Homo sapiens: one gene and its partner. The protein of the gene in region 1 binds, or shares a complex with, the protein of each later gene. Each region holds a gene or a part of one and is shown in the gene's direction. Other genes may lie near its edges.

Region 1 (3,657 bases):
AATGCATTCACCCTCTCCCAACATCTCCAAAAGTCTCAACCCAATACAGCCACAACTGACTGCAAAATCTCAACCAGGGCTCTTGATCTAACTCAGGAATAGGTGAGATTCTGGGTGTAATCCATACTGGGACAAAATTCCTGTCTGTTTGTGGACCTGTGAAACTAGCAAACAAGTTATCTGCTCCCAGAATATGGTGGGTCAGGCATAGGTTATCATTAAATGGAAAGAAAAAAGGAGTCTCTAGTTTTGAGCACTTTCAAAACTCCTTTAGGTTTCAAGGACTGGGGATAGTTCTCTGTGACTCTTTACTCCACCCTGTGGGTACTGAACTTCTCCACTCTTGGGAGTCATCCTTCTTTTCTAATGAAGGGTGTAGCACCTGTATGCTGCTGATTACTTTTATCAGCCTGTTTCTTGCCTCTGGAATTATGGTGGTCTGACAGCATTATTTCATTTCATATTCTTTTACTTCACCTTTTTCCTGTCCCGTTTTACTGTAACCAGCAAGAAAAAACAAAAACAAAGAACCGGCCACATCTTTAATACTTTGCTTGGAAATCTCTTCATCTTAATGTCCAGGTTCATAGCTTACAAGGTCTGCTTTCCACGTAACTGCTGGACTTAATTCAGCTAAGCTTTCTGCCTGTATATAGCAAGGATCCCCTTCCTCTAGTTTTTGATAACATGTTTCACCTTTCTTCCCATCCAAGTCCTCATCAGCAGCAAATTTAAGCTCCATGCGTCTAGCAATAGTATGTTCATGATAATTCACATATTTTCTAAGGTGATAATGTGTCATCTACCATGCTTCTCACTTCGTTCTGAGCCCACACTGGGAGAGACATTAACATCGTATTTCTATTAACAGTATGTCAAGACCACCTAGACTTTTTCTATTATGCTTCTCAAAATTCTTTTAGCCTCTGCCCATTGCCCATTTCTGCATTTTTAGGTGTTTGTTATAGCAGCACCCCATTTCCCATTATCTTCATCAGTATCTTATATATCACTTTTGAAAGTGCAAAATAATTGTAATTTTACATTCTCCAGTCCCTCATAATTTATGTGACTATCATGGTAACACTAAAAGCACCAGTTTCTTACATGTCATATTGAACCCATGGTGTTACTCAAGTCGTAATGTGAAAGAATAAAGCTTTTCTTTGCCTCTTCTTTATTGACATTTTTCCTGATCATCCAGTCTAAATTAGTCTTCCTTCGTCTCCCTTCCTACTAATACCATATTGAAATCATCTTGTACTTTTATTTTTTATTGTCTGTTGCCTTTCTCTATGGCATTGGCCCCATCAGAGCATGAATCTTGTCAGACTTATCATCTGATGGGATGGCACATAGTAGCTGTTTCATAATTGTTGGTTAAATTAATGGATAAATTGTTGAACATTAATTTTGACTAGTTTTCTTTTAAAGGGAAAAATTGGTACATATTCTTTGTGCCTTGGGTATTTTGAGTGAATTTTAGCCCAATATATATCTTGCTGGTTTAGAGTAATGAAAACCTACTACATTATTCCTAACACATTTCTAAAAAGTAAACTAATTTTGGGGACCATATTCTTGTTGCATGATCAAAATCATGATTCTTGGTAAATAAGTGGTAGAGTGAAATGTGATTTTCATATTTGAATATTCTGGGAACTTTGTTTTTAACAGTATTGCTGCCTTGCTGTTTCACATGTTATTTTGCTGCTTTCTTAAAATGCATACACTATTGCAATGTGGCATTTAATATATACTCACAACTATATATTTCACACAGGATGATGTGACTCTGGTAAACCTCAGCTTTCAGGAGCCAGCAGGCTGCTCAGAGGCTCACCAGCAGACTGTTCTTTATGTCTTGCTTGTTCCTATGTGGTGAGGATGATCACTAGTAGCATTTGTAAGATGTGTTCCATGCTTTTCCTGTCAAATTACGCATTAGCCTTACCAGATCCTTAAGAGAATTTACAGTCTACTTGGGGAAATACAATATATACATAAAGATAAGTCCTCATAATGTCAAATGGGGAAGAAAAAATAAAATAGATACTAGGTAGGGGAGGTGAGTGTCAATATTGGGACTTCATTGTTGATCTTGGGGGGTGGAGGTGGAGGTAGCTTGCCTCTCAGATATTACTTTGGTTATAAATCTGTCAGTTGTTTTCATGTATTTCTGAACCTACTATTTAACCCTTACTGGGTGTAAGCTTTGTGTTGTATGGAAACTTATAATGTAGAAGAGACTTTGCTATCTATGAATTTAGTTTTCTAACATTTTCCATGTCTAAGGAATTTTTTTCCCCTCCAAGGTTTATTTAGCTCTGTAGAAAGGCTTTCCAGAGAGGAAAGGTGAGTTGACTTAGAACTCTGGTGGTAAAAGTTTTCCCATGAGACCTTGGGCAAGTTACCAAATTTTATAAGCTTCAGTTTTTTCTTCTATAAATGCTGGATAATAAATATATCTACTTCATAGGGCTAGTGACAAAGTAAGCTAATGCATCTGAAGTACTTAGAATACTACATGGTACATACATTCTTAATAATTATAGGCTATTATTATAAATACTTCAGAGACTCTGTGGAATCAGCCCTCCCTTGCAGTTTCATCCATTTGTGGTCATAGACATTAAATTCTTTTTATTGGCTTTTCTTAGCAAGGATGTGTGTGTGTGTGTGTGCGCGCGTGTGTGTATCTATATGTGTGCATATATGTGTGTGTGTGTATATATATAGTGAAGACTTCAAGAAGTATAAATTCAGTTTTAAACATTAGTTTCTAATCCCACCGTAACTTCCTTGAGGGACTTGGATTTCTCTTTAACAGCCTCCTTACTGGGGCTAGACCAGGTAAATATCTGTGCTGTGTTAAGAATTCTATAGAGAATGCACTTTACATAATCAGAAGATTTTACAAATGTTATAGCAGTAATTTTCTCTTCATTTTATTATCCATTTTTAGAATTAGTGCAGTGGCTTTTTGCAAACTTTTTTTTTTTTTTGGAAAATAAAGCTGTTAGTGTAAATTATGAAACGTTAAGTTTATTCAAAAGATGGTGCCATTTCTCAGAGGAGTTTGACAACTTTCCACAAAATATAAAATCCTTTCTAAAACTTCCTGCACTGTTGACTCAAAGAGATTCCTGATAGAACTCCAGGATTATAACGGATTTACTTTTAGGAGAAGAATGTCTTTAAAAGTGGTGGTAACCTTAATAGAGAAACAGTGAATTGTTGAATCTGTGATAGTATTTGTGCCTTTTAATAAATTGTAAAATGAGTTCCTTAAGACTTACATCTTCAGTTGTATGAAACTCCTCCTGTTACCCTTGCCTCACTAAAGTACAATCCAGAATTTTTTCTAGTAACTGATCTATATTATTCATTTTTCTTGTTTGGGCACATACATCTTATTTGACAGCCGTTGCTGAAGGCTTACTAATTTTGTTCTTCATGGTATTTAAGAGGGATGGAACTTGTAAGTAAACTTACAGTTATAATCAATATAATGTAGTAGGAGTTAAACTGCCTTCTTATATGGTTCCGAAGTTAATCTAATTCCAAGAATTACATTTATTTCGGTATAGCTTGAAATTGATCCATGTATACTAGCTCACTTAAGTTTTCACAAACTGAGCACATTCAATCAGCAAT
Region 2 (3,657 bases), on another chromosome or scaffold:
TTAAAGTGTCAAGTTAAAGAATGATTTGTGGCATTGTTAATTATATACAAATTTTGACTGGGTGAACTTACCTAGTTTTTGGAATCACATTGACTAGGCTAGCAGTGAGCAAACTGTCATAAGGAGATTCGCATACAAAATTCTCTTTTAATATGACTCGTAACTTTCCTTGGGTGCTACATGTTGAAAATGCACTGATGTACAAATAGCCCTTATTATTTGAAAATATGAAATAAGCTACCCATAATTTAAAAATGTTAATTAAATATAATTTCAATCAAATTTCTATGTGGTAATTTAGAAGAAAGACATATTATTCTTTATAATTGAGGCTTTTCCAGTTTGGACTAAACATATGTGTTTTTTTTTTTCTATATGAGGGTATGATTTCTTCCAATCAATGGAAAAATTACAGGACAAAATAATTACAGTAATTATTTAAAGAATGCCATATTATAAATTAAGACATTTGGAGTAAAAAAAGATTGCAAAGTTTTCATCATACCTTTTCATGTTTAACAATAAATTTACATTTAAAAGTATATTTCTAATATTTCATTTTTGTGATATAATTTCTTTTTAAATAGAAAGCACTTGCATGGATTGTTTATTTTTGGCAGCTTTGAATTTGCTTATATGTTGTGACTACCTTTCTCATATAGTAAATATATTAAGAGTAATTCTTTTAACAGCTGGTGCTTCTCTATTACTATGATCTTTCTTTTCTCTAGACCGTGTCGGTGTCTGTGTCTGTCCTCACACTGAGCTGTATCGCCTTGGATCGGTGGTATGCAATCTGTCACCCTTTGATGTTTAAGAGCACAGCAAAGCGGGCCCGTAACAGCATTGTCATCATCTGGATTGTCTCCTGCATTATAATGATTCCTCAGGCCATCGTCATGGAGTGCAGCACCGTGTTCCCAGGCTTAGCCAATAAAACCACCCTCTTTACGGTGTGTGATGAGCGCTGGGGTGGTAAGTACCTTATGGCCCATCAACTGACATTTATATTACAGCAGCAAATTGAAAATTGGATTAGCATAGCCATTGTAAAGCTGGGCTTATATATTTTATTGACATTTGTGAATACAGTTTTGCAAGAGCATGAAAACCAACTTGAATTTCAAAACAATTTCACAGAATAACTCTACCTATCTGAATCCTTTGGAAATGTTATCTATTATTTTCTCATTTTCATATCTTTTGGATAGGAAATGAAAGGAGATTATTCTACAATTCAGATTTGATTATTTTAGTTTTTCTTAAACTCTTTAAACAAAAAGCAATATGGAATACAAATCCGATTATGTATTCTGGAATGATCCACGATTTATAAGATGGTTCAACACTGTGTTGTCTAGTGTCAGGGTCCCTAATGGGCTTCAAATACAACTGAATTTTTTCATTTTAAGACCATGTCCTGGATCACATGGTCCTGGGAACATGGCCAGAGTCAGCATGTGGTTCTCTAAGTCAAATAATCCAAATTTGTTTTCTCTATTCATAATACATTATTGCTACTCGCATAATTATTATCCAGTTTAAGAATTATATTAATTATGAATCAATCTGGTTTCCCATCTGACAAGTATGATGTGAAATTTAAGCAATCAGGTTTGAAGGCTTTATGTTTCTTTGGTTAGAAATTCTTAGAGTCAGTCTGAGGTTTTTGTGTAACAGTGAGAATACTGCTATCAACACCTGGTGCTAGCACAAATCTGGGCACAGGAAAGAATGACAGAAAATAAAATAACCCTGCATTTCAGCATAGCATGCACTGATTCCAATATATCATATGAAATATATATTTAAAAAAAAACCAATCTGACCTCTTCTAGGTAAGTATACTAAAATGGCTGATATTTAGAGAATTCATATGTTAACATTGTTTTTTATTAGAAAGATGTATCAAAACAAGCAGTGCACACCAGGGACTGATTAAGGATAATATTCTTAAATATTGTAATCTTTGAATTTCTGTTATTTCCTACCTTGGTGTTTGTACTAGAACACCGAAAGGAAAAAAAGCCAATCACTGATATATTAGGCATATACTACAGGATATATCTACAGCAAGATAATATTTAAGAGAGGCTGGGATTATTTCATATATTGTTGCAAGACCTATAATAACTAAAATTTTATAATTTGCTTTATCTATTACCCCAAATATCAAATATCTGTCTTTTATTGGGATTTACTTTTCCTTTTTAACATTCCAACTTTTTTTTGCTGTATTTTTCTCTGTATCATTTTCAGTTTTTTCCAATTTTCCAAATTAATAGTGCAGACAAAAAAAAAATCAATGGAAATTTCCAAAATGGTAGGAATATTTATGAAGTGTCTTATGTCCCATTCATTTAATGCTCAAACACCACCTTGAGAACTTAGTATATGTCAGGCATTGTGCCCACCTGGAGAGAAACAGACTCTGCTTACGGGAGCACACTCTATATAATAAGGCTCAAAGGCCAATAAACAAATTTTTATAGGGTAATCAGTATTTTAATATATTTATATACAAAATGCTGAGAACACAAATGAGAGAACAAACTCAGTTCTGGCCATTTGAACAAAAGTTTACAGAGGAACTGCTAACATTCCAGCAGAACATTAAAGATAAGCAAAAATTCTCCAGACTGAGAAGAGGGAAAAGGATGTCCAGAAAGCAAGAAAATCCACATCATGGATACTACATTACAAAGCAGAAAGAGTGAATCAGCACTTGTAGTTTCTGGAACATAGGGGCAGATAGTGTAAATAATTGAATTTTGAAACAAGATGGGTTGGGGACTGACTGTGACATGTCTCTTATACGATCCTTTTACACTGGTTTATATTTAGAAAGCCTAAAAAGGTCTTTCTCAGAATCCTGTATTAAACTCGAGACTAAATTTAACCCTAGAAAGATTATATTATTTTTTCAAGATTATGAAGCAAATAGGTACATTTAAATCTAAAGCTTCCAACTTGTAAGTTGGGATTCCTTAAGTTTTATAGGGATTGCTATTAGATAAAATATAAAAATATTTTTCAATATGTGTCAGCAGTATTTTCTCTAATATTCCGGCAATTAGTTTCACTTATATGTTTATGGGTTGCTTTTATAAGCTTTTCTTTTTTTAATGTTTCCCTGAATAATCAAGTAACAGTAACCTCCATTAACAAAAAGATTGCAAAGTCATGGATTCCTGTTCAGTTATTATGATTATGTAAATAGACGTATGATTTTTAAATTACCTCTGAGTGGTAAATATAAATACATAAAGCTCATTTCTACTCTGATATTTTATTACATAACTCTAGCATGGACATTTTCATTAAAAAAAGGAAACAATTGTTGAATATGTAAAAACCTAAACTTAGCCTTCAGAAGTCATTTAAGAAAACTATTTGAAGGTGATTTTATAATAGCCTATAATTAAATGCTTGTAAAGACTAAAATTAAGTATTATTGGACTGAATTGATTAGCTACAAAATCCAACTTAGTAAAAGCTATACAGTCATTTAAATATTAAATGAAATTGCTAAGAATATTTTTAAGAAAAAATAATTCAAGGCAGATTTTTATCTTTCTTATTAGATATTTATTATGATGATTTCTACATAGCATGTAAAATCATTGTTCATGTAAACTATTTATAAGTCCATGTTCG

Evidence for each region. Proteins that work in one complex are often made in the same cells at the same time.
Region 2: the proteins of GNAI1 (region 1) and HCRTR2 are in contact, whole or in part, in a cryo-EM structure (PDB 7SQO), measured with the Homo sapiens proteins. Residues at the interface, in NP_002060.4 of Homo sapiens: Ala31, Arg32, Leu194, Phe336, Thr340, Asp341, Ile343, Ile344, Asn347, Leu348, Lys349, Asp350, Cys351, Gly352, Leu353, Phe354; in NP_001371201.1 of Homo sapiens: Thr89, Arg152 (codon at 783), Ala155 (codon at 792), Ile156 (codon at 795), Pro159 (codon at 804), Leu160 (codon at 807), Met161 (codon at 810), Phe162 (codon at 813), Lys249, Gln254, Lys301, Thr302, Met305, Leu306, Ser368, Lys370.

What each region holds. Positions count from the first base shown.
Region 1 is NC_000007.14:80,141,239-80,144,895, forward strand, and holds part of GNAI1 (guanine nucleotide-binding protein G(i) subunit alpha-1), read left to right. Parts: intron 1-3,657. UniProt on the Homo sapiens protein: Guanine nucleotide-binding proteins (G proteins) function as transducers downstream of G protein-coupled receptors (GPCRs) in numerous signaling cascades.
Region 2 is NC_000006.12:55,254,405-55,258,061, forward strand, and holds part of HCRTR2 (orexin receptor type 2), read left to right. Parts: intron 1-731; coding exon 732-975; intron 976-3,657. UniProt on the Homo sapiens protein: Nonselective, high-affinity receptor for both orexin-A and orexin-B neuropeptides. Triggers an increase in cytoplasmic Ca(2+) levels in response to orexin-A binding.